Linked DNA regions of Homo sapiens: regions 1, 2, 3, 4 and 5 are each reported to be linked to region 6. Evidence: microRNA targets listed by miRTarBase, many of them from high-throughput screens and not tested one by one. Region 6 holds a microRNA gene; each other region holds the end of a gene's coding sequence. Distances are from middle to middle.
What was found. The annotated mature microRNA hsa-miR-3606-5p reads UUAGUGAAGGCUAUUUUAAUU and lies in region 6 at 1,398-1,418, opposite strand. An mRNA with a match to its seed (bases 2 to 7 or 8) in the 3' UTR can be bound and repressed. Matches are read on the target gene's strand: a 7mer-m8 pairs with bases 2 to 8, a 7mer-A1 pairs with bases 2 to 7 and ends in A, and an 8mer does both.

Region 1: the mRNA of ARPP19 is a reported target of hsa-miR-3606-5p. Seed matches in the 3' UTR shown: 7mer-m8 at 3,547-3,553.
Region 2: the mRNA of SP100 is a reported target of hsa-miR-3606-5p. The part of its 3' UTR that is shown has no 7-base or 8-base seed match.
Region 3: the mRNA of CD2AP is a reported target of hsa-miR-3606-5p. Seed matches in the 3' UTR shown: 8mer at 394-401.
Region 4: miRTarBase lists TRPV2 as a target of hsa-miR-3606-5p. Seed matches in the 3' UTR shown: 8mer at 551-558.
Region 5: miRTarBase lists AHCYL2 as a target of hsa-miR-3606-5p. Seed matches in the 3' UTR shown: 7mer-m8 at 3,326-3,332.

Annotation. Positions count from the first base shown.
Region 1 is chr15:52,548,299-52,552,406 of GRCh38, forward strand. ARPP19 (cAMP regulated phosphoprotein 19) reads right to left here. Exons shown (of 3, transcript NM_006628.6): 3 at 1-3,806. The coding sequence ends at 3,636. Among named protein-coding and RNA genes, the nearest start is that of ARPP19, 19 kb to the right of the region's middle.
Region 2 is chr2:230,542,496-230,546,588 of GRCh38, reverse strand. SP100 (SP100 nuclear antigen) reads right to left here. Exons shown (of 29, transcript NM_001080391.2): 29 at 983-3,753. The coding sequence ends at 3,643. Among named protein-coding and RNA genes, the nearest start is that of SP100, 130 kb to the right of the region's middle.
Region 3 is chr6:47,623,460-47,627,459 of GRCh38, reverse strand. CD2AP (CD2 associated protein) reads right to left here. Exons shown (of 18, transcript NM_012120.3): 18 at 197-3,274. The coding sequence ends at 3,233. Among named protein-coding and RNA genes, the nearest start is that of ADGRF4, 73 kb to the left of the region's middle.
Region 4 is chr17:16,436,442-16,440,549 of GRCh38, forward strand. It overlaps TRPV2 (transient receptor potential cation channel subfamily V member 2), which reads left to right. Exons shown (of 15, transcript NM_016113.5): 15 at 348-562. The coding sequence ends at 448. SNHG29 (small nucleolar RNA host gene 29) reads left to right here and starts at 2,546. Exons shown (of 4, transcript NR_045025.1): 1 at 2,546-2,619; 2 at 3,744-3,812. SNORD49B (small nucleolar RNA, C/D box 49B) reads left to right here and starts at 3,068; the gene lies at 3,068-3,115. It overlaps SNORD49A (small nucleolar RNA, C/D box 49A), which reads left to right and starts at 3,595; the gene lies at 3,595-3,665. RefSeq lists enhancers at 1-444, 1,048-1,949, 1,950-2,849, 1,965-2,154, 2,215-2,544 and 1 more.
Region 5 is chr7:129,426,234-129,430,341 of GRCh38, forward strand. It overlaps AHCYL2 (adenosylhomocysteinase like 2), which reads left to right. Exons shown (of 17, transcript NM_015328.4): 16 at 210-330; 17 at 806-3,978. The coding sequence ends at 812. Among named protein-coding and RNA genes, the nearest start is that of STRIP2, 6.1 kb to the right of the region's middle.
Region 6 is chr2:188,992,964-188,997,062 of GRCh38, reverse strand. MIR3606 (microRNA 3606) reads right to left here and starts at 1,433; the gene lies at 1,371-1,433. COL3A1 (collagen type III alpha 1 chain) reads right to left here. Exons shown (of 51, transcript NM_000090.4): 16 at 3,604-3,702; 17 at 2,981-3,025; 18 at 2,731-2,829; 19 at 2,469-2,522; 20 at 2,232-2,339; 21 at 1,964-2,017; 22 at 1,273-1,371; 23 at 885-938; 24 at 567-665.

The DNA of each region.
Region 1 (4,108 bases), not on the chromosome of region 6:
CAACATGGTGAAACCCCATCTCTACTAAAAGTACAAAAATTGGCTGGGCATGGTGGCGGACGCCTGTAATCCCAGCTACTTGGGAGGCTGAGGCAGGAGAACTGCTTGAACCCAGGAGGCAGAGGTTGCAGTGAGCCAAGATCGCACCACTGCACTCCAGCCTGGGCAAGAGTGAGACTCCATCTCAAAAAAAAAAAAGAATAAAATAAAATAAATCACAAGCCATCCTGAGTGATGAAATCTCATGATCTCCTGCTCTGTCCTGCCTGGGATGTGAATCACCCCTTTGTCCTGCTTATCCACACTGTATACTACCTGCCCCTTAGTCACTTAGTAGCCGCCTTGGTTGTCAGACTGAAAAAACATAGTTGATAAAGGGTTCAGTACTATCTGAGGTTTCAGGCATCCACTAGGGGTCTTGGAATGTATCTCTTACAGATAAGGGGAGACTACTGTATTACATTTCAGCTTCCATAAAACTTTACTAATTTGGATTAAGAACACAAGCCTGATTTAGTAAAAAGTATCCATAAATATTCAGAGGTATAGTTTTGTTTCATCAAGTAAAAAGAGCAACTAATTCCAACTGTTGAAGTAGTAACAAGTAAAGGCTTCACCAGGCTTTCCTTGATGAATAGTTAAGACATATTTTTAGGTCATCAGCACAAGATTATTGAATAACTTGTATGCTACAAACATGCCGCTTCCACTCATCGAAACAAGCCAATAATCCTTACTATTCCAACTTGCTGAGAACCATGTCAGATGCTGCGTTCAAGAATGAAATGTTCCTCAAAACTGTTCTATCAAATGTAGTAGCTATTGGACATAAAACAAGTAATTTATTTCAGACTTTAGTTTTCATGAAGTATTTATCAACAACTTCAATTTATTCCAACATTAATTTATGATAGGACAGTTATTAAAATTAACCATTTCTGAGACTGTAACTTTGAAATTGTAAGAAATGGACAATTAAGCTCACTAGTCAAAATCTTGATTCAAGTGATGATCCAATAGCTTACAAATGTCTTCAATAAACTGAGCTTTGAGGCAGAACAAAAAAAAAACAAAAATCTAAAACCTCTCTATCCCAAGCACCAATAATGGAGGCTAAGCAATTATACCTACAAATCCTTAACGACAGGTCTCTCCTAATGAAAAATCCTGAGATTTAAGCACTGTGACTTACAGAAGGCAGGTTGGCTTAATGAGGAAATTTACTTTTAATAAAAAGACAATCAGCAATATTTTATTTTGGGCACTTAGCATTTCACAGATCCTCAATACATTTTGAGGTAGGTCAAATATTAATTATGTATTTTACAAACAAAACTCAAGCAGTTGTTTTATTACTTGTCCCAAACCACAGGAGCAGTTCTATCGTGGTCAGGAATAACATGGTCTCTGATCTTTCAGATTAATCTTTCATGTGTGAATTTAATGGTAATTACTTGCAAATATTCATGAAAAAAACCAAGACTAGATATAGAAATTCTACTCTGGGTTATTTTAAACTTCTTAAATTGATTCTATAATGAGTATATACTTGCTCTCATTACAAATATATATATATAACTGATCTTTACATTACAAATGACCACAGCAGTGACTGTGTTGCTTTTCTGCCTTTTGGGGTGAGTAGATCAGGAAGATAATCAGCAAGCTTTCCTCAGAGCACTAGGCAGCCTTTAACTTAAGGTGCTATGTTTGAGGCACCATTGACTATGATTTGGGGTCATAGGAGAGCAGGTATACTGATGGAACCAGGATTCAGAAAAGATGCCTGGATCCAAAAACGGGAGGCTCTCTGCAAGTCAAAGATGAAGAGAAAAATAGTAGCATCTCAAGCTACTGATCCTGAGTATCATGCTACAGCATTACAACTACTTGTGAGAGGAGCTCCTACAAGAGCAGTAAACTTGTCCCAGTAAAGTCTGCTAAGTTCTAACTAGATAAGCCACAAGTAAAACTAAATTGGTATTTTACTAAAGTGACATCTACAGAAGCAAACATCTAAACATTTTTAATAGGAGTTTTACCTGTCATGTAAATTACTCTAATTGTCACAAGCCTAATTCAATTAGCTTGTCATAATTCCTAAAATAATTTACCAAAATTCAGCTCATCTTGACATAGGTTCTTGAGCCAGTATTCCGAACCGTTTCATTATAAAGTTCCTTTTATTTAAACAATTGTAGAATATTAGTAATAATAAAGGATCAAGAATAGTTAACTTGAGCCTAGGAGTAAGGTTGCAGTGAGCTGTGATTGCACTACTGCACTAGAGCTCAGGTGACAGAGCAAGGCCCTATCCTAAAAAAAAAAGAGAAAGAAGTTAACAACTGAGAAATTAGAAGGAAAACGCCATTATTGTGTTATATAAAAGAGTAAGGATATAGACACCTATGCTTCCATATACAACAAACAGCTCAATACCATTTGAGTCAAAGAACAAAGGGGAAAAAAAAGCAGGTGGCAGAGGGCATGGAATGCAGAGTATTGAAGCCTTTTATTCTAGGGTCTCCAAAACTGAGTGTGGAAGTAAAAAGTTTCTACATTTAAAAAGTTTATATAAATTACATGAATTGCAACTTTCATAAAAATCAAAATGAAAGGTTCTGCATAGGACAAAAGATATGCCTAAGCAACATATCGTATTTGCACAAGGCCACTGAATGTCATGGATATTAGTAACAAATGAAAAGCTTAAGTCTATGGCAGATTGAACTAAGATTTCAGTTTGGTATTCTATAAGCCCGAGATTGTAAACTACTCTTATTATACAAAAGCTATAATGATTTACAGAGTTTTGTGTAGGAACTCTTGTGCTTCTGGTTGGCACATTATCTACTTTTTAAGTATGTGAAATTAATACAGACATTTGTGAGAGGTTGTGCAAAACTACTGTATTTACAAAAATGGCACAAAAGTGAATTCAACAGTTAATGCACATGCATACTTCATTCACATCTTCAACAACAAAAGGTATTCTAACTCTACAGAACTGAATATTAGCTTCAACGGCAGCTGTTAAGCACTAGAGTCACATAAGTTACACCAGAATGGGCAAATATTGCCCAAGTAAAATTCTACTGTTAAAGCTGAAACAGGTTTAAGGCCATTCAAGTTCAAGCACAGAGATACAAATCTTTCAGAGCCCCATCTAGTTGTGTTTGAAATATGTGACCTTTCTTCTAACTTGTGGTCTTAAACTTCTGTTTTACAAAATCCAAAAGGTAAATACAGAAGAAATCAATACAATAGAGATTATATTAAATAAGAGTAACATACAAAGCTATAATTAAGATGAAGTAATGAAAGCCAAAACATTAAAATTTTAAAACTTGCTTGTTACTTGTTAGAACCAGTACTACACTAGAAGTTAGGTAATATATACAACTATTTTCAAGTAGTTTACTTATGTTGCTCTAACATGTCCTCTTCACCAGTGCACTGTTAAACTAATCAAAAACTCTACACACGTATATTCCACAATAGCAGCACACACTACTGCTACCTGCAAAGCTGTCAGTCTCAAATGACTAGTGAATGAAAGGAAATAAAAAGTAGATAAGTAACATATTAAGGAGAAATAATGAGATTTAGCAGATTCATGCAGTTCAGCCTCTTAATCAGCCAGCCAGCTTGCTAGCAACAAGGGACGGCTTCCGTTGAGGAAGGTCTTGCGGAGTGGGAATGTGGTCACCAGTGACCTCCGTCTTATCCGGAGCTGCAGTAGGAAGTTGCTTGTTCTTCATTTTTGCTTTAGCCATGTTGTAATCCCCAGAATCAAAATATTTTTGCTATAAGTAAAAACAAAAAAAATTCAGATTAGAGCTTAGCAATTACTGATTTAAGATGTCGATGCAACCCCATACTGTCCGTATAAGGTTGGTCTAAAAGAATTTAAACAGGAATATTAATTAGATGAAATAGTCTCTGTACTGAGTTCCAGCATAAGTCAACAGCCGAGAAGCCCCCCTTCAGACTGGGCACAGTGGCTCACTCTTGAAATCCCAACACTTTGGGAGGCCAAGGCAGGCGAAACACTTAAGGTCAGGAGTTCCAGGCCAGCCTGGCCAATATGGCGAAACCCTGTCTCTAC
Region 2 (4,093 bases), 42 Mb from region 6:
ATCTCTCTGAGTATCTCTCATATATACACACACACATATATGCATATACATATGTGTATACATATATGTATGTATATACATGTGTGTATACATATATGTGTGTGTGTGTGTGTGTATATATATATATATATATGCTAATAAACTTCTGTTTTTCTCTTGTTAATCTGTCTTTTGTTACAGGGGCCCCAGAGGATCTGGGTAGGGGAAACTTAGAAGGGTAGTGGGAAAATTATTTTTTCCTCTTTTACACATGCAAATACACCAGGGTGCCCTGGCAGAATCATTTTCCAACAGAACCAAGAATTGTCTGGCCACGCGTGGTGGCTCACGCCTGTAATCCCAGCACTTTGGGAGGCCGAGGTGGGTGGATCACGAGGTCAAGAGATCGAGACCATCCTGGCCAACATGGTGAAACCCCGTCTCTACTAAATATACAAAAAATTAGCCGGCCGTGGTGGCAGGCACCTGTAGTCCCAGCTACTTGGGAGGCTGAGGCAGGAGAATGGCGTGAACCCAGGAGGCAGAGCTTGCAGTGAGCTGAGATTGTGCCACTGCCCTCCAGCCTGGGCTACAGAGTGAGACTCCATCTCAAAAAAAAAAAAAAGAATTGTCCGAGATTTTAGTGCTCAATGGAGGAATGCTTCCATCCCCTAAACCGAATACGATTCCATGAATTGAAAGTTGGAGGTGCTATGTAGCCACCACAGGCTTCCTGATGCCACTGGGTAAAAGGTGAAAATGATACCATCTAGTATTCAGTATGGTAATCAGTGACAAAATTACGTATAAATAACAGTAGCTTTGTGTAATAGGCAATAATCAGTAATAAAATTCAATGGGAAAAGATTGCTTTCACGGCAACAACAAAAAATACAAAACTGAATAATTGGGAAGATATAATATGATCCTTTATAGAAAGACTTTATGTTATCAGTTGTAAGTTTCGTTCCAAATTATTCAATAAGAGAACTTGATAAGACAATTTTATTATTAAAATTTTTTTTAATGATCCATTTATTTACAATTAAAAAAACTTTTAGGTTCAGGGGTATATGTGAAGGTTTGTTATATAGGGAAACTCTTGTCACGGGTTTGTTGTACAGAGTACTTCATCACCAATAGGTACTTTTTCTGCTCCTCTCCCTCTTCCCATCCTCCACCCTCAAGTAGACCCTAGTGTCTGTTCCCTTCATTGTGTTCATGAGTTCTCATCATTTAGCTCCCACTCACAACTGAGAACCTGTGGTATTTGGTTTTCTGTTCCTGAATTAGTTTGCTAAGGATAATAGCCTCCAGCTCTATCCATGTTCCTGAGACATGATCTCATTGTTTCTTATGGCTGCATACTATTCCATGGTGTATGTGTACCATATTTTCTTTATCCAATCTGTTACTGATGGGCACTTAGGTTGATTCTGTATCTTTGCTATTGTGAATAGTGCTGCAGTGGACATTTGCATGCATGTGTCTTTATGGTAGAATGATTTATATTCCTCTGGGTATGTACCCAGTAATGGGATTGCTGGGTGGAATGGCAGTTCTGCTTTTAGCACTATGAGGAGTTGCCACACTGCTTTCCACAGTGGTTGAACTAATTTACACTCCCATCAATAGTGTATAAATGTTCCCTTTTCTCCACAACCTTACTAGCTGTTATTTTTTGACTTTTTAGAAAGAGGCATTTTGACTGGTGTGAGATGGTGTCTCATTGTAGTTTTAATTTGCATGTCTCTAACGATCAGTGATATTGAGCTTTTAAAACATGCTTGTTGGCCGCATGTGTATCTTCTTTTGGAAAGTGTCTTTTCATCCGGGCATGGTGGCTGATGCCTGTAATCCCAGCACTTTGGGAGGCCGAGGTGGGTGGATCACCTGAGGTCGGGAGTTCAAGACCAGCCTGACCAATGTGGAGAAACCCCGTCTCTACTAAAATACAAAATCAGTCAGGTGGTGCATGCCTGTAATCCCAGCCACCTGGGAGGCTGAGGCAGGAGAATTGCTTGAACCCGGGAGGCAGAGGTTGTGGTGAGCCAAGATCACGCCATTGCACTCTGGCCTGGGCAACAAGAGTGAAACTCCATCTTAAAAAAAAAAAGTGTCTTTCATGTCCTTTGCCCACTTTTTAATGGGGTTATTTCTTTTTGTCTTGTAAATTTGTTTAAGTTCCCTATAGAAGCTGGCTATTAGACCTTTGTCAGATGCATAGTGTGCAAATATTTTCTCCCATTTTGTAGGTTGTCTGTTTACTCTGTTGATTGTTTCTTTTGCTGTGCAGAATCTCTTAAGTTTAATTAGATCCCATTTGTCAAATTTTGCTTTTGTTGCTATTGCTTTTGTCTTTATCATGAAATCTTTGCCTGTTCCTATGTCCAGGATGGTATTGCCTAGGTTGTCTTCCAGAGTCTTCATAGTTTTTGATTTTACATTAAGTCTTTAATTGATCTTGAGTTGATTTTTGTATATGGTGTAAGGAAGAGGTCTAGCTTCAATCTTCTATCCCAGTTATCCCAGCACCATTTATAAAATAGGGAGTCTTTTTCCCATTGCTTGTTTTTATCGACGATCAGATGGTCATAGGAGTGTGGTCTTATTCTGTGCTCTTCGTTCTGTTCCATTGGTCTATGTGGCTTTTTTTTTGGTACCAGTACCATGCTGTTTTGGTTACTGAAGCCCTGTAATATAGTTTGAAGTGGGGTAACGTGATGCCTTCAGCTTTGTTCTTTTTGCTTAGGATTGCCTTGGCTATTTGGGCTCTTTTTTGGTTCTGTATGAATTTTAAAATAGTTTTATCTAGTTCTGTGAAGAATGTCATTGGTGGTTTGATAGGAATAACATTGAACCTGTAAACTGCTTTGGGCAGTATGGTCATTTTAATGATATTGACTGTTTCTACACAGGAGCATGGGATGTTTTTCCATTTGTTTGTGTCATCTCCAATCTCTTTGAGCAGTGTTTCGTAATTCTCATTGTAGAACTCTCTCACCTCCCTGATTAGCTGTATTCCTAGGTATTTTATTCTTTTAGTGGCAATTGTGAATGAGATTGCCTTCCTGATTTGGCTCTTGGCTTGGCTATTGCTGGTGTATAGGAATACTAGTAATTTTCATATACTAATTTTGTATTCTGAAACATCTCTGAAATTGTTTATCAGCAGAAGGAGCTTCTGGGCTGAGACTAGGGGGTTTTCTAGATATAGAATCAATGTTGTGTGCAAACAGGGATAGTTTGACTTCCTCTTTGCCTATTTAGATACCCTTTATTTTTTTCTGCTTCCTGACTGCTCTGACCAGGACTTCCAATACTTTGTTGAATAGGAGTGGTGAGAGAGGGAATCCTTGTCTTGTGCTTGTTTTCAAGGGGAATGCTTCTTTTGCGCATTCCATATAATGTTGTCTGTGGGTTTGTCATAAATGGCTCTTATTATTTTGGGATATGTTCCTCAATACCTAGCTTATTGAGAATTTTTAACATGAAGGGGTGTTGAATTTTATTGAAAGCTGAAAAGACGGTTTTAAAATGGCAATGATAAATTTTGGAGAATTGTGATGTGGAGTTTCCACAGGAGCAGTCACAGATTAGTGGGACCACAGGCACATTGCGTAGCTAGCTGCCAGAGGATCTGAAGGGAGGAGATAAGAATGGCTAAATAAACATTATAATGTTCTTGCTTGTTTCCTGAATTGCAAAAATGTTTCTGAAATTCTTCTCAAAGATGTCCTGTACTTGAATTCCCAGTCTGGTGAATTTATCTTCCTAAAAAAGCAAAGAAAAAAACAATATAGCAGTTATGCAATGAGCTGAGACACCCAGTGTTGCAGATAATCTGGGGCCTCATTTTAGGTTATCCCAAATGTTAAGTGAGAATTAATCTACTTGAGTTGCTTATGTTCCTTGATAATTTAATTATTTATCTTTATCTGGAAGACAAGTCAAAATACTACTACACTGAAATCTAATTTCTGATCAAAAGCTTATGGATTAATTTAACTTTTAAAAATTCTACTTGTGTGATTTTTATGCACAGCATTTTCTGAGTAACCTTATGATAGTACAGAAATGTTTAAGGCCATTTAATAATGTCTTCCTTTTCCCT
Region 3 (4,000 bases), not on the chromosome of region 6:
GCTTTTTAAAAAGGTAAAACAGCAGCCTCCATTTTTTTTTTAAAAAAAACCTACTCTATGCCAAGCACTCTACAAAGCCATTTAGATAAACTATTTCAAATTCTCCCCATAATCCTGTAAAGTAGAAATTACTGTCTCAGTTTCAGATGAAAAACCAGACTCAGAAAAGTTCAGTAAAAGTCATACGGGTCTAGAATTTTTAATGTTTTTGGTTTACTATTTATTCTTGTATTTGGAAATTGAAGTAATATAATTTTCATCATACTCTGAAATACACAAATGCTAAAGTTAACAAAAAATAACCAATAAAGACTGACACGACTGGCAATAAAATCCTTTAATTTTTCTTTTTGAGAGAGAAGCATGCTTTTAAATACAGCACCTGTAAACAAGTTAGTGAAGTATATACTATTTTGAGATTCCCCCTCTCAATTTTTTTTTTGGAATGTTAGGTTACAACATCAACTGCATTACGTAACAGTTATTGAAAGCAAGTCAGGGTAAAATTTTATAGCCAAAAATATTCATAGCAGCAACTTTTAAAATATGATTTTATTAAATCAAGTCATTGCACTTGGTCATTTTATTGCTACAGCAAAACAAGGCCTTTACATTATAATACTTCTCATTTCTGATTTAACTGATTGTCTCATTCTGCTCATACATTTCAAGTTTAAATGCAAGCATAAAATGTTTATCAACAAATCTAGAGAGCACTTGGATTTTTAATTTTTCTGTGATCACAGTAAGGAGCATAAAAAAGAGTATCTTCTGTTACACAAGGCCTGTTCTCTCTTTACATCTTCAGACTTAAATTCTGTAGAAGGTAACAGCTTTGTATTAAGACAGAAGCTTAGTGGTCACAAACAAAAAATAACACTGAAATACAATTCAGAAATTAATGATACTGTGTGTCTCAAAGAATACCTGAACTATACATTCACTAATAATTTGGCAATGAGATTCCATGCTGTTCAACTTTTGTCTTTTATACTCACACGTAGAAAAAAAATTCATGATTTACCCCAAGGTTATTATTAAATATCATTTTGTGATATGAACTTTAGTAATAGAAATTAATAACATTTCCCATACCAACAGAAAGTAAGTTGCTAGAATAAAGGAATCATTTTTCCCATCAGGCCTGGGTTTGTTTGGTTTTCTTTACTATTTTATCAAGGACAGAAAGGTAAAAGTATTTCAGTTACTTTTCTATTCTGACTGAGGAGGACACAAGCAAAAACTTTAAATACATTTCCATGCTCATAAGCATCTTGATTTCATGTACTATTGAGAAAATGACCAACAAAAACTTTAAGAACAGCCTGAAATCTGCTGGAAACTTCCCTCATCCCATTATTAGGATGACCAGGGATCACTTCAATAGATTTTCAGGTGAGAAAGCTGGAGGATAATTTCTAGGATTACAATATTTTTGTTTTACCTAAGGTTGGTCATTAAAAGAAAGTAAGATTTAATTTATTTAACAAGAAGAAAATAATTCATTTGACTAGTCATTTAAACCTATTCTATTTAACAGAAGAGGGAACAATTTTGTTCAGTAGTGACCTCATTAGAAGAGCCCATTTTGAAGAGTTCTAATGTATATTCTCAATATATAATTAGCATTCCCCCAAACCCCTAATGTAAGTTGTAAATTAAACATTATGTTGTTTACTGGCATTTCTATTTTCTACTTCAGTTCTCTTTATTTGAAACATGACAAAATTTCATTTACATAAGATTTCTATATTATAAGATTAAAATTTAAAGGAAAAATATTGGTTTGGTGGTTTAAAACTAAAAAAAATGGAAGCATGATCATTGGTACTCAAAAATCTGACACTCATTTGCGATATAATAAAGCATAAAACAATTTTTTGCAAATAAAAAATTTCAAATTTTAAAAATTTAAATAAACCCACTTGTGTTTTAGATGTTACCTACAGACAGAACATTTTAAAGCATTCAACTGTTCATAAGTAACTCTGAAGAAACAACTAATTCATCCATTCTGTGAAAATGTATTTTAAATATGTTCAACTATATTTGGTTTTAAATAAGCTGTAATGTTATATTTTATGACATACTAACATTCTTTATAAAGTTTGTACCTAAATAATAGTTCAAAATATCTCCATGAGTTAGTTTGGTCTATTAGGTAAATTATACATCGTAAAACCTGAGTATTTACAAGTTAACTTGTCAAAATAGGAAACCTCACACTGAAGTTCTGAAAAGCTTTGGGTTTTGTTTTCCTATTACCATTATTAAAAGTCAGAAGGAGAAACATGAAGAACTAAGTGACAAGATAATGAGAAATATTTGAGGCTGTAAAATAAGCAGAAAAGTACAGCAACAGGCTGGTGTTTACATATTTTATATGTGCTGTAGTTTCTAGGCACAAGTTAAGGGTTAAATTAACAGTTTTAGATTCTTCAGACCTAACAAATTTAAAATACAGTTCATATTTCCCCAAATGTTTAACAATCCAACATATTTTAACTAAGTTCCTTTTATGACTCCTATAGTGCAAGCAACATAAAATATTCTAAAAGTTGATGAAATTATTTTGATTATTCATTAGTTCTTACTATATGCATGGGTGAGTAATCTGGTTTATATAGCTAGGAAACTCCTATTTCATCACCCAAAATATAAACAGCATTGCAGACAAACAGGCACAACAGTGTAACCTTCGGTAAGAGGATAAAAGTAAAAATATATATATATATATACACACACACACACACACACACACACACACACACACACACACAGAGTTTATATCCCTTATGCATTATGGAAAAAGTAGTGACTATAGTTACTAAAAGGCTAATCTGTCCCTCTCAAATAGTATATCTTAACAGATTACTTGTAAATATATCACCATATTTATAGTATAGATCTCTTTAAAAATAATACAAGTTTCAATAAAAAAACTACTGTGCACATTCTTATTTATATTCAGTAGTATTTTCAAGCAAACAATTTTTTAAAAAGTGTTTGCAATCCCAGCACAGTTAAGAAATAAGGCCTCTTTTTCTTCATATTGGCAAAACAAAATATATATATAAATTCACCCTCACTCTACTTTTCTATAGATATTACACTTCATTTGCTCATATTTATCACAACAACAGAATTCACAATTTTTAAGTAACAAGTCAGCTGAAGTTCATAGCGTTGCTTCTGAATCCCTGGAACATTATGAACACCAGGTCCACACCACTCAAGAAGACAGGACAGCTTTTTTCAGCTTCTCTATTTCCATCTAAAACAAAAAACATAAATTGAGCAAACATAAAATATCCTTAGTTTAGTAGTTTATTTTACTCTATGTCATTAAGATGTGATCATACTTTCAAGCCTTCAGACTTTTTTTCCAGACCTAAAATCCAGTTTCCCATGCTATAATTTGGTTGAATAAAGTTTCAACAGTACAATGCAAGTTCCTAAATGGCAGTTACAATAAGAAAAAAGCAATTATAGCCCTTTCAGCCAGAACAAATGTTAAGTCATGTGAGCATTTAAAATTAAAGCTGTAAAAAAATCAGTCAGTCCTACAAAGAACAAAAGAATCCTTGAAACCAAATTAAGAAATGTACATGTATCTATAATTAAACAAAGGATACATAAACAACAGTAAAAAGAATAGAGACCTGTTTAGTTCCATGTTTTTCACTAATTATACTTAATTATAATTATAATTATTGTTAAATCACTTGACTTGGTTTCAATTTACTTATCTGTAACCAGTATATACTACATTAAATATCTTAAAGCCCAGGAATATATCTAAGATTCAGTCAAGGTGCTTGATATAGTTCCACCTTTAGGCAGAAGGAAATTCATAACTTAAGGAATTTATGAAGAAGGAGATCATTTCATTAAGTTTGCACAATAACTACACAGAGTTATTCAATACTGCCATATTCAAATGGCTAGGTTGAGGCTCAAAGACATTAAACAGGATGCCAATGTTCCACACTAACAAGTG
Region 4 (4,108 bases), not on the chromosome of region 6:
TCTGGATGTCCAAATCTGCCACCGCCCCTGCAGGACAGGTCCCCTCTCTCCTCTGAGCTCCCCCAGCATGTCTCAGGTGTTCTGATCTCTGACACACAAGTCTGTCACCTCCAGGCACTTTAAGCTCCTGGGGGTGGCAGGGGCAGGGGGAAGCCCCTGATATGGCAGGGGATTGGGAAATGCTTGTGGAGTGAGGGAAGCAGGGAGAAGGATTGCTGGCCTCCAGGATCGCTGAGGCTGTCCCCACGGCATGACGTGTTTTCATGACTGTGGCCCCGTTTCCCTGGTGCCTGCTTCCTGGGGACACACTCAAGGGTTAAGCTACAGTGCTTGCCATCTGTTTACAGGAACTCTCGAGAACCCTGTCCTGGCTTCCCCTCCCAAGGAGGATGAGGATGGTGCCTCTGAGGAAAACTATGTGCCCGTCCAGCTCCTCCAGTCCAACTGATGGCCCAGATGCAGCAGGAGGCCAGAGGACAGAGCAGAGGATCTTTCCAACCACATCTGCTGGCTCTGGGGTCCCAGTGAATTCTGGTGGCAAATATATATTTTCACTAACTAACTCTTCTGGAAACATTATTTGGGCAGAGTTGCTGGGACCCTTAGAGCTGGCAATGTCTGCATGTCTCTGTGTGCACAGGTCTGTGTATGGGACTAGGTTGCTCCTGCCCTTGCCTGGGCACAGAGACCCTCAGTTGCTGTGTCCCCACCCTCACCCCCACATCCCCAAGTCTGGGGACTGTCCTCTTCCTGGGTACAGGCAGCTGGCTGAGGTGCTGTGCCCATTGTTGTGGCAGATATATGGTGATGGACATGGGCAAACAGCCACCTCTCCTCTCTCTCCACCACGACACCCTTTGCTTTCCACACCCACCCTGCTTTTGGGCAGGTACCTGGGAAAACCCATTAAAGCCACCTCTCTTGCTTTCTCTTCCTACCGAGCTTCTTGCTCAATTCCCACCCCTCCCAAGCCATTCTCTGCAGGGCAGCCAGAGGGCCTTCCTAAGACATAAGACAAACATGTCCTCTTTGTGCTCTGAAGGCCTGAGAGGCTCCCCAGTACCCACAGAATGCCCTAGCTGACATCCCGAGACCCCCACGGTTTTGCCCAAGCAGTTCCAGACACCTCCTCCCCTCCACCTCTGTTGCCCCTCCCTCCTTAGCACTCTCCCCAAATTCATGCAGGCCGAGAGACCTCGTGCTTGATCCCTTGACCTGGCTCTTGCTGGAAGCCCCCCTCCTCCATTAAAACCCTACACTTGGGGGTGGGGGGAGGGATAGCATTAGGAGATATACCTAATGTAAATGATGAGTTAATGGGTGCAGCATACCAACATGGCACATGTATACATATGTAACAAACCTGCACGTTGTGCACATGTACCCTAGAACTTAAAGTATAATAATAAAATAAAACCCTACACTTGCCGGGCGCCTGTAATCCCAGCACTCTGGGAGGCCCAGGCGGGCGGATCACCTGAGTTCAGGAGTTCGAAACCAGCCTGACCAACATGGAGAAACCCCGTCTCTACTAAAAATACAAAATTAGCCGGGCGTGGTGGCGCATGCCTGTAATCCCAGCTACTCGGGAGGCTGAGGCAGAAGAATCGCTTGAACCCGGGAGGCAGAGGTTGCGGTGAGCGGAGATCGCGCCATTGCAGTCCAGCCTGGGCAACAGGAGCGAAATTCCGTCTCAAAAAAACACAAAAACGAGCAACAACAACAACAACAACAAAAACCCTACACTTATTTCTGAGGCCAGCTCAAAAGGTCTTATGATTGTCTTCCCAGTTTTTTGCAGTCAAAATGAATTTCTTTCCCTTGGTATAACGTGTGTGTGCAAAACGTGGTTGCATGGATTCTTTTTCAAGGAGAGAGCTGAGCATGTTCATAGGCTGAAAGGAAAGCCACAGTAGAGAGAGTTTTCCATGGAAGGTGAGGCAGGGGCATAGGTGGAGGAGGCCCCAAGGAATGAGGAGAGGAAAGGAGGTGGGCAGAGCTTTACCCCAGAGGCGAGCAGAGGATGGACGTGGATCTAGATAAGACGTCAGCTCGTTCCCTAAAGGTCGTGCTAAAGGAGTAATGAGGGTGACCAGTGCGCAGGGGTTTGAGAAGCCCCGTGGATGTGGTGAAATAGCTGTGGGGAGAGTATTTGGCAACGCTCAATAGATTCAGGAGGAGCTACTAGGATGAATGGCTGCCTTGTGCCACAGCTCTACAGGCTTTCACGTGTGTCATCTCACGTGATCTTCTGGGGCGCTGGTGTCTCCGTTTACTAGAGGACCAATCGGAAGCTTAAAGAGAATGAGTAATTGGCCCAAGACCACCCAGCTAAGGAGTGGCGGAGGTGGGGCCCAAACGCGCGATCCAGCCCTCGCGCAGGCGCCCTGGAACTCCCCGCGCGTGTTGTGACCCAGAATTCCCGGGGCTGTGGAAGAGACCATAGACTCAACAGGAGGGGGAGTCCTGGGTAGCGCGCCGGTCTAAATCGTTACTTGGCGGAAAGTTCCCATGAGTCTTTGCCAGCGTCCCCCTCCTTTTGTGAGGATTGGGATATTCCGACTCCTTAAGGGCCTGGCGCACATAAGGTGTGACCTTTTCATTCCCGTTGTTATGGAGGTAGGCTCTCTAGGAATCTGGGAGTAGTAGCTGGGGGGCAAGAGCAAATAAAGAGCTCGAGCTTCTGTGGTCTCTGGGGAGATGTTCCCGGGAAGCCTGTCTAGAGGGCGGAGGGCAGCTGTTGAGATGGCGTGGCTCCCCGGCTCCTGCGCCCGCGTGGCTTTCGCGGCGGGCGCTGCGGCCCGGTATTGGACAGCCTGGCAGGGCAGCGCGGGGCCGAATCCGGCTGCCGTGGCTGAGGCTCATGGATCACTCTTTTGTGGTAGGGCCACATCTGCCAGAGCCTGGAGTCTGCGAAGGCCGGGACCCGGTTCCCCGGCCCACAGTGGGGGTGTGCAAACCCGAGAGAACTGGGTAAGTTGGGGTCGGCTTGCAGTTTGGGGTACCCCGAGGGCGGTGTACGTCGGTAAGATTGTAACAGTATTACTGGAAGACTTATTCGACTGTCCTGATGATACTTGTAATAGGAAGTGCCGTCAGAAGCGATAACTGACGACGTCTAATGTCTATCTGACCGCAGTCGCTGAAACCTCTACAACTTAGTTGACCGTAACTGCCAGAGCCCTGCCCTGAATTCCTGTCCTTACTCCCTCTTTAAGATTGCGTACCCACTGCAGAGTGCTGAAGACGGGGTAGCCACGAGGTGAGAGGCTCTCTGGTGTAGGGTTTAACATGGAACGTAGTTTTGTCACTTGAATGCACGGAAATTGGCGTTTTGACAGTTTTCTACGTTTAGGTGTTTTATACACTTTAGGGTAACGTTATCATGTCATTGCATAGGGTGGAACTTAAATAGAAACTGGAGATGGCTGCTTCAGCCACAGTCCTAACCTAGAACTGCATTTAAAGCAAACTGATAATGCAGAAACAAACTCCTTCGTTAAGAAATGTCTCCAGTAGCAGGGTTAGCTTAAGTTTCAGGTAGGGTCTAGATCTGCGGTTGGAACAGTACTGGAGGGTTGTGAGGTGCTTGACTGCTCTGATGAAATCACTAATAGGAAGTGCCGTCAGAAGCGATAACTGACGAAGACTACTCCTGTCTGATTGCAGTCAAGTCTTCACCACTTGCTGGTTCCCAGGAGTAAACTTGTTTGAACGGTGACCTAATTGCTATATTCACCTAGGTTGCAAATTCGTGAAGAATCAGCATCATGTTTGGCAGCTGAGTATTGGAGCCAGGAGCCTGCCATGAGGTAAGCCTTGCTCTATGGGGAGGCTAGTGGCTGACCACGCCTAGCTGTCAGGTCGAATATTGGCAATTGGATTTGGTTAACCTAATACCTTGTAACAGTGTAGCCTATCCCAGAGATACTGATTTTAGTTTCCGGTGGCAGTGGAGCCAGGGTGGATTACCTAGAAAGAGGGGCTACTCTATTTACCTCTTGGCTGTTTAGTCTCGGGCAAATTACCTGTCTGCTGAGATGTAGTTTTCCTCAGATGTGAAAAGGAAAAGTAATCTTAGCTTTGTGAAGTTTAAATTGATATGACT
Region 5 (4,108 bases), not on the chromosome of region 6:
GAATTATTAAGGCTTTGGAAAGCACTGGGCTTGAAGCTGAAGGCAGCTATTCCTTAGAATTGAGGACCAGTGAGCGAAGGTTGAACATTTTTCATTCAGCTCCAGGAATTAGAAGGTGTCTTTGAACTTTTTAAGGCCTAGCTTGGGGACAATAGCCATCAGATAAAAGGCATGAATGCTTATACCAGGGCTTCTGTGGTCTGTTCCAGATGAGTATGTGGCCAGCCTACACCTGCCTACCTTTGATGCCCACTTGACAGAGCTGACAGATGAACAGGCCAAGTATCTGGGACTCAACAAGAATGGGCCCTTCAAGCCTAATTACTACAGGTGCCTTGGGCTCCCCAGAAATCAGGGACACCTGGGCAGTGATGAGCTTCCTGCACTGGAATTGGTCTTTGCATCCCCAACCACATATGCTTACATGAACTCAGAAAAATGAACCCACTTCCCCTCACTGCCACCTTCAAAAGACTCTTCAAGGCCTTAAATAGTATTCCCCTTCCTGAATTTGCCTTTTGGAGATAGAGAGGTGGAGTTTGGGTAAGTGGCTATTTGCCTCATTAAATAAAGTTCCCCTTCCTCAATTCCTTTCCCCATTTCATCTTGTTGCTATGATTTTTATCTCTTTATGGAGAAATATTGGCCTTTTTCAATGATGTGAAAAGGAAACACAGTTATTTCCTGTCACTGTACACTCCAGAAAAGTCTCTGCCTCCCTGTTACACCTTTAGGCAGGCTCTTCATGTCCCAGCATCCCCATTAGCTGATAACATCACAGTCTCATCTTTCTTTTTCCCTCCAGGTATTAAGTTCCTGTAACTCAAACCAGAATTTTTAAGGAATAGAACTCCAAGCCTTTTCTCCACTACTATACAAGAAAGAATTCAGCAAGCTGCTTCTCCAATCAAAGCTGCCTGCCGTGCTCACCCTGTGTGTTAGGTTATTTATTTATTAAAATCAAGAATCCTGTGCCTGTAGTGTTGGCCCAGAGTGTGGTTACTGCCCTGAGGGCCATGAAAGCCACAGAGGATGGGCTGAGGAAGGAAAGAAATGGGGTTACTGCTCCCAGTGCATCATTTGCATCATTCCCCATTGACTGAATCCTCAGCAGTGGCCGTTTTTCCTCTTGTCCAGGCTCACGAGTTAGTCCAGGGATTCCATACTCCCTATTCCCTGGAGTTTTCTGGAATAAATTTTCAGCACCTGCTTTTCTCAGCTTGGCCCTTCCCCGGGTGAGGCCGTTTGGAATTAACATGGCCAGTGTTTCACACAAGATTGGGTTCCCAATCTTGACCATCACTATCACTGCCTTCTTTATATAAAGGCTAATAAGGAAGGAGTGTTATTTATGGCTTTGCCAAGCTACATCAAGAACTCAGCTGTGCTGTGCCTACCAGGGGTCTCCTTTCTTACCCAGGACTCCTTTCTTCTCCTTGAATATTTATGTCCATTTTAACACTTCCTGGTTGCAAGAGGGATGTGCCTCCATTATTTCCTCCACAGTTTTGGTATTTGTCAGACATTTGTTCTGCTGTCTTTCTAATCCAGCCAACGTCTGCTCAGGAAGTGGGGCCAGCTCCACTGGGACCCATAGTTTTACTTCCTTGTCATTTGATTGGATAGTTTCCAAGGAAGCCCCTCCAGATTGGCACTATCTCAGAAAAGGAGAGCTTGTTGTGAAACACTGCTTCCTGAAACTTCCTGCTATTGCCTAAAGCTACGTCTGAAACTGAGTAGGGAAAGGCATACTTTTCCAGGGACTTAGGGGGATAGGCTTTGGAAATGGGACAGGTCTTTCAGACTCACAGCTTGATACCCTAACAAAGCAGAGTATATTTATTTGTTTCCCAGGAAGGCCATTGCAGTTTGACTGGCTGAGGGATACAGAGATGAAATTGTAAACTGTATCCAGATTATCAAAGCTAATTTGACTAGTTTGAACCTCGTCAGACATTCATTCCTTTGGCCATTGCCATGGATGAAACCGAGATCTGCAGTCTGATCTGTGGACTTCTCTGCTGGCATATCTTTTATGATTTAACCTCTTCCATTTGATGATTCTGTATTTCAGAGTCAGTTTCTTGAGTAACTCCAGTGCTACAAAAAGAATTAGTAATGTGGTGTGGGCAGCGTGACATTTTATGTCCCACCCAAAAATTGGATTCCTTTTGGAGACTGATCTGTTGGTCTCAGGCATTTCATTAGGACCAGATTGGTTCTAAGAGTTAGTCTGGACTGGCCCTAGGAAACTTGAATTAAATAAGCCTCTTCCCCTTACCGATCCTTTTTAACACTCTCAGGTTTGTTTGTTTCCCACTTTTTTCCTATGCTGGTCTGCCTCAAAGTCTCAAGACCAAGGTGACTCAAGATAACACCAGACCACGCATGATCACCAAAACCTTCCCATCCTGATTCTCTTCTTCTACCTCTACCCTCTCCAACTTCTCCTGGTCTTCACATATACTCTCAAAGCTAGTCTGAAAGTGACCTTACTTTCGGAAGTAGGGAAGTGGAACTTTGGTAAATGACTGTTTGCCTCATTTAATAGTATACAGGCTCAGCCCATAGACTACAGTTCTTCAGAGGCCATATGTCTCAGCAAGTACTGGTTATATTCTTTTTTTGTAAGGAAGATCATAAATGCTAAAAATTCCACTAAGCCATTCAGTTCTTCCTTTTGCCTACCTAGTCCTGATTTTTGTATTAATTGGTTCCCTTTAGCAAGGGATTCAGATCTTTGTACCTTATCTTATATCCAGAGCAGATTCCATTTGGCAGATAGATGGTCTCTAGCCTATTGTATTCTTAGACCAAAAATCATAACCTGCTGTTTCTCAGCAAAGCCTTGCTCTCTGGAGCTTACTATGTGCTGGTACTTAAAGAGTACATTCTGCCTTGCTGTAGTGAAGAGACCCACTCCAAATAAAAAAGGGGCCACACGGGGCTTCTAAGTTAGGTTGCCAGTGTTGCTGCCCATGATGAGTTATTTGCCTCTGAGTTTCAGATGACCTCTCTGTAGGGACACTGTGTTATCAACCATTAAGAAGAAAGAACCACAAGCCTCCCAAGTATTTGGGTTCTATCTTAGGGTTGAAATCTGGTCATTATTCCCTCTACCCTTGGAATCAGAGCAATGTGTCTTCTTTCCTCCAACCTCTTACCTTAGATGCATCCTGGTTATCTGGAAGCATGGGAAAGAAGGCTACTTATCTCTTTGTATGTGGCTCCAGTCTGTGAGGATACATAACATTTTCTCTACAATGAATCTGTGCTAATATTTTGCCTTCTTTCTTTCTTTTCTTTTCACCCTTAGAGACAGGGTTTCACTATGTTGCCCAGGCTGGTCTCAAACTCCTGGGCTCAAGCAATCCTCCTGCCTCAGCTTCCTGAGTAGCTGGAACCACAGGTGTGTGCTACCGTGCCTGGCACTTTTTTGCCTTCTTAATGGAGATATTCAGTTTTCTTTTTTTCATTTAAACAAAGAAAAAAAATGTATCTACTCTACCTTCCCTCTGCTCTCCTCCCTCCCTATCCTACTTGCCCATATGAGCACGGCTCCCCATGGCCACATACTCCTGCAAAGCTTTTATGCTGCTTCGCTTTTCTCTAAACAGATCTGATATTGCTGCTCCTGTGGTTTTCTCAAAATTAACTTTGCCGTGGTTTTTAAAAAGGAATCAAAATGCATTGTTGCATTAAGCTTTTTCAATAAAGGAAAATTACGGAAGGAAAATAGGCAACACCAGCAAATTATATGTGGACAGGTTCTAAACTCTATATATACATATATATATATATATCTATATATCTATATACGTAATCATCTAGTTCTGTCATCTTACTGAAAGGAATAACACTTCTAAAGATCACCATTTCTGAGAAGTTCTTGGAAATCTTTATGTCTAAGTGATTGTATTAGATCAGCAATAATGACTATGTAATCTCAAAAAACAAATAAAATATTCTTAACATGGACTCTTAAGGGTATTTCTTGTTTCTGTGAACTAGAAATTCAGAGATGAGAGAGATCTCTGGGCAACAAACTAGAGATCCTGCTGTAGGGCAAGGATGTGAAAATGTTACCAATGGGCATGTTTGACCTTAG
Region 6 (4,099 bases):
TATGTCTCATATATATATGTCTCATATATATATGTCTCATATATATATATACACACACACACATACATATTTTTGAGACTGAGTCTTGCTCTGTCGCCCAGGCTGGAGTGCAGTGGCGCAATCTTGGCTCACTGTAGCCTCTGCCCCCCGGGTTCTAGTGATTCTCTTGCCTCAGCCTCCTGGGTAGCTAGGATTACAGGCACATGCCACCATGCCTGGCTAATTTTTGTATTTTTAGTGGAGACAGGGTTTCACCATGTTGGCAAGGCTGGCCTAGAACTCCTGACCTCAGGTGATCTGCCTGCCTTGGCCTCCCAGAGTGCTGGGATTACAGGCGTGAGCCAGCGCACCCAGCCTGTTTCATATTTTTTATCTGCCTGCTCCATACACACACATACAACCATAACCAATTATATATTTAGCTCCCTTCCTACATGCAATTTGATTTTCATATACTCCTCCATGCTTTGAAGAGGAGACTGAGTTTTGACCATTTCTTTACTCCATATGGAAAATAAAAGCCTTCCAGTCAAATATTTATTGAAGAAATTAATGAAGGAACTCACATCATTTCCTTTAGGACCGGGGAAGCCCATGACACCAGGCTGACCTCGGGGACCAGATGGCCCAGGAGGACCTGGTCGACCACTTTCTCCTTGACTTCCCTAATAAGAAAAAATTACATTAATAAAGGTTTGATAAAGAGAAGATTAAAGCATGCTATATATATAGTATGTGTGTGTGTGTGTGTGTGTGTATATATATAGATATACATATACATATATATATATACACACACACACACACACACACTCAAGGATAGGCCAACATATACATTCCATTTTAACTGGCCTTTTAAAATGAGATTTTAAAAATGTACATACGGGAGGCCCTGGTTTCCCATCACTTCCTGGTCCTCCTGGACTTCCGGGCATGCCCTGAAGTAAAGAAGTCAGTTGTTAGGTGATTTAAAATGAAATAATAAAAAATTACTACATACACTATTTGTATGATTTTGATATTTTCACTTACATGTGAAGCCTCAGATTTGCACATCTTTTTTCCTGTCTATAAAGTATCTAAGGCAAGTGTTCTATCTTCTCTTCTCCTTGAACTATCTCGGCTTAAGTTTACTTAAAAGAATTTTGTTTTGTTTGGTGCCTTACAAAATATGTAATCTGATTGATTTAAGTTGCTTTTGATCTGTCTTCATTTGTCTTGCCTTTCTTCTGTCTAAATTAAAGTGTCATTCAAACAAATGTTTCTCTGTACCCTCATTCCTGGACCTCCAGGGACGCCATCTCTGCCAGGTTCTCCAGCAGCTCCTCTGGGCCCTGCAGGGCCTGGAGCACCACGCTCTCCAGCAGGACCCTAAGTAGTGAAAGAAATTTTAAAAAAATTAAAATAGCCTTCACTAACCTAGATAGCAACAATATTTTGGTTACAAAGAGAGGACGTCATTTGAACTTTTAAAAAGGGTTCGTGTGTTGCTGAAACATTTATACATAAAATCAGTTATCTTAGCTTGGATTGCCATATTGAAAAAATTTTAAAGCAACTTTGTGAACATCACATGCTTAATAAAACAGTATTCACTGTGCTTAAAAATATAATTATGTGCAGCTAAAATCAAATATCTTAATGCTATGAAATCATATTTGATGTAACCTTAGAGTTTTCAAAGACTTTTCAGGCATTTTAGTTTACTGTACTCTTGCAACGATGCTCAGATAAATGCTTTCCAATTAACAGATAAGTAAAGGATTCTCATAGAGGGTAAGTAAGTGGCTTTAGTTACAAAGCCAGGAAAGTTGTTGAACAGAGGATGCATTATATTAGGAATTTTTCTTAACTCTAATATATATTCTTCAGATATTTAGGTTTTCATGAATGAGAAATTGTATACAAGAACTGCCCATTTGTGGTGCTAGCATTTAGGAACATAGAAACTAAAGTTATCTACCTTTTCTCCTGGGATGCCATTTGGTCCAGCAGGTCCTCGGAACCCAGGGGCACCCTGAAAATAATGAAAGACAAGTATTTCAGTCCAAAGGATTTCAATTCTTTTTCATAATTCTTGAGTGGCAAATATTTTTATGTCATAGAATGCTTTAAACAATATTTTCACTGAACACTCAACTTAAGAAAAATTGGCTGTCTCACCCTGAAGGTAGTTTTATTTAGATGACAGTGATGCTGCTTTTCTTTTAGATGCCCCATGGAAAACGTACCCTTTCTCCTGCAGCTCCTGGAAGCCCATTTGCACCAGGTTCTCCAGGTGATCCATCCTTGCCATCTTCGCCTTTAGCTCCTGGAACACCTGGAATACCAGCCTCACCCTGAAAAAAAAAAAAGATGGTAAAATAAAGAAATTATGACTGAATTTAGTTCAAAGTTTTTACCTGTTTACTTTCTAATTATGTTGCATTTTTTCAAGAAATAACCAGATCTGTTGCAGTAAAACTTACGCGTTCACCACGTGGTCCGGGCTCTCCTTTGGCACCATTCTTACCAGGCTCACCCTAAAGTATAACAAAGTCTTGGTTGAAACACAGGGAGGATTCGACTAACAAATCATCACCAGTAACACATAATTCAGTTATAAGTTATAAGACAAGAGTGAAGTCAATATAAATTCAACTGAACAGGAGCAAAATTTTGCTATTAATTTTTTGTTGATGGAATTAAACTATACCTTTCAGTCAACAGAGAAAAAACAAGGCAACTTACTGCACCACCTCGCAGTCCAGGAGCACCATTAGCACCGGCTGGTCCTGGAGGACCCCGGGCTCCCATCAGTCCAGGAGCTCCAGGAATGCCAGCGGGACCCTAAGAACAAACCAAAGACACTATATTAGCCGAACTTGAATGTTCTTTTATGAATATCTCACTTAAATATCACAAATCTATTGTCATGCAAAATGCAAAAGAAGCCAGTAATGTGTGGATGAGATAAGGCTGAGGAGTGGGGACAGCTTACCATTTCGCCTTTACCACCAGGACTACCATTAATCCCAGGAGGGCCCTAAGTATACAAAAAACAGATAATGTATTAATAGTAATGCAAATAGTTCGTATATATTTGAAGTTGTTTGTGTGAAAATAAATGTATCGATGAGTGTTATGCTTTGTAGAGATTAAGTGAATCCTCCAACTATAACACAACATATGAAATGTGGTCAAAAGAATCATCATTATCTAAATAAATTAGAGATAATATGTACTTCGTATAAATTATTAAATGATACATAAATAGAAGAGATTTTGAATTTGGTTCTTCTCTGAATTTTTATGATTGGTGATTAGCTTGGGGCACATTCTTGAAAGCATCAGAAAACTAGTCTATCCTCTATTCTTTTATATAAACATAAAAAATCATGAATTCTGGAATAGTGCAACAGTCAAAAACTATCATTTTTACTACTAATCAAATCAGTATGTGTCACAGGAGGATCATTTTAGAGCACTAAGCAACAATTTTTTCAAAGTAATTTTCACTGATAGCCATATTGAAGCACATGCTTTCATGGAGTAAGCATGAAACTATGCTTTCATGGAGTAAGCATGAAACTATGCTTACTCCCTCTCAACTATGATACTTACAGGAGGACCTTGAGCACCAGCGTGTCCCTGAGGTCCAGGTTCTCCTCTTTGTCCAGGGGCACCATTTGAACCAGGAGACCCTGCAGGTCCAACTTCACCCTAATGGTAAAACCTTGTGTAGTCAGTTTCTCTTACCACTTCTACTCACTTAGCCACTTCACCCTTCAGTCCTGTTTAAACACATCTCCCAAAAGTTGGAGTAGTGGGACTCTATACTGCAGGTAAAGCAAGGAATCATTAATCGTAAAGGCAGAGAAAAATGTAACTATGTGTGTGTGATTGCATTATCAGTTTCCTAGAAAGAGTCTGGGGAAAAAAAGAAGGTAGCAGAAGAAATATCAAGATAGTTGAATACTAGGGACAACACCTCTTTTAGAATCAAGAATAGGGCTTTAAAGACATGTATAGATAAAAGCTATCCATTTGACTGATTAAAAAAATCAGTTGCAAGAAGCAATCTAATGCTTTTCTCTTGCCTCCAAGATATTTTTATACC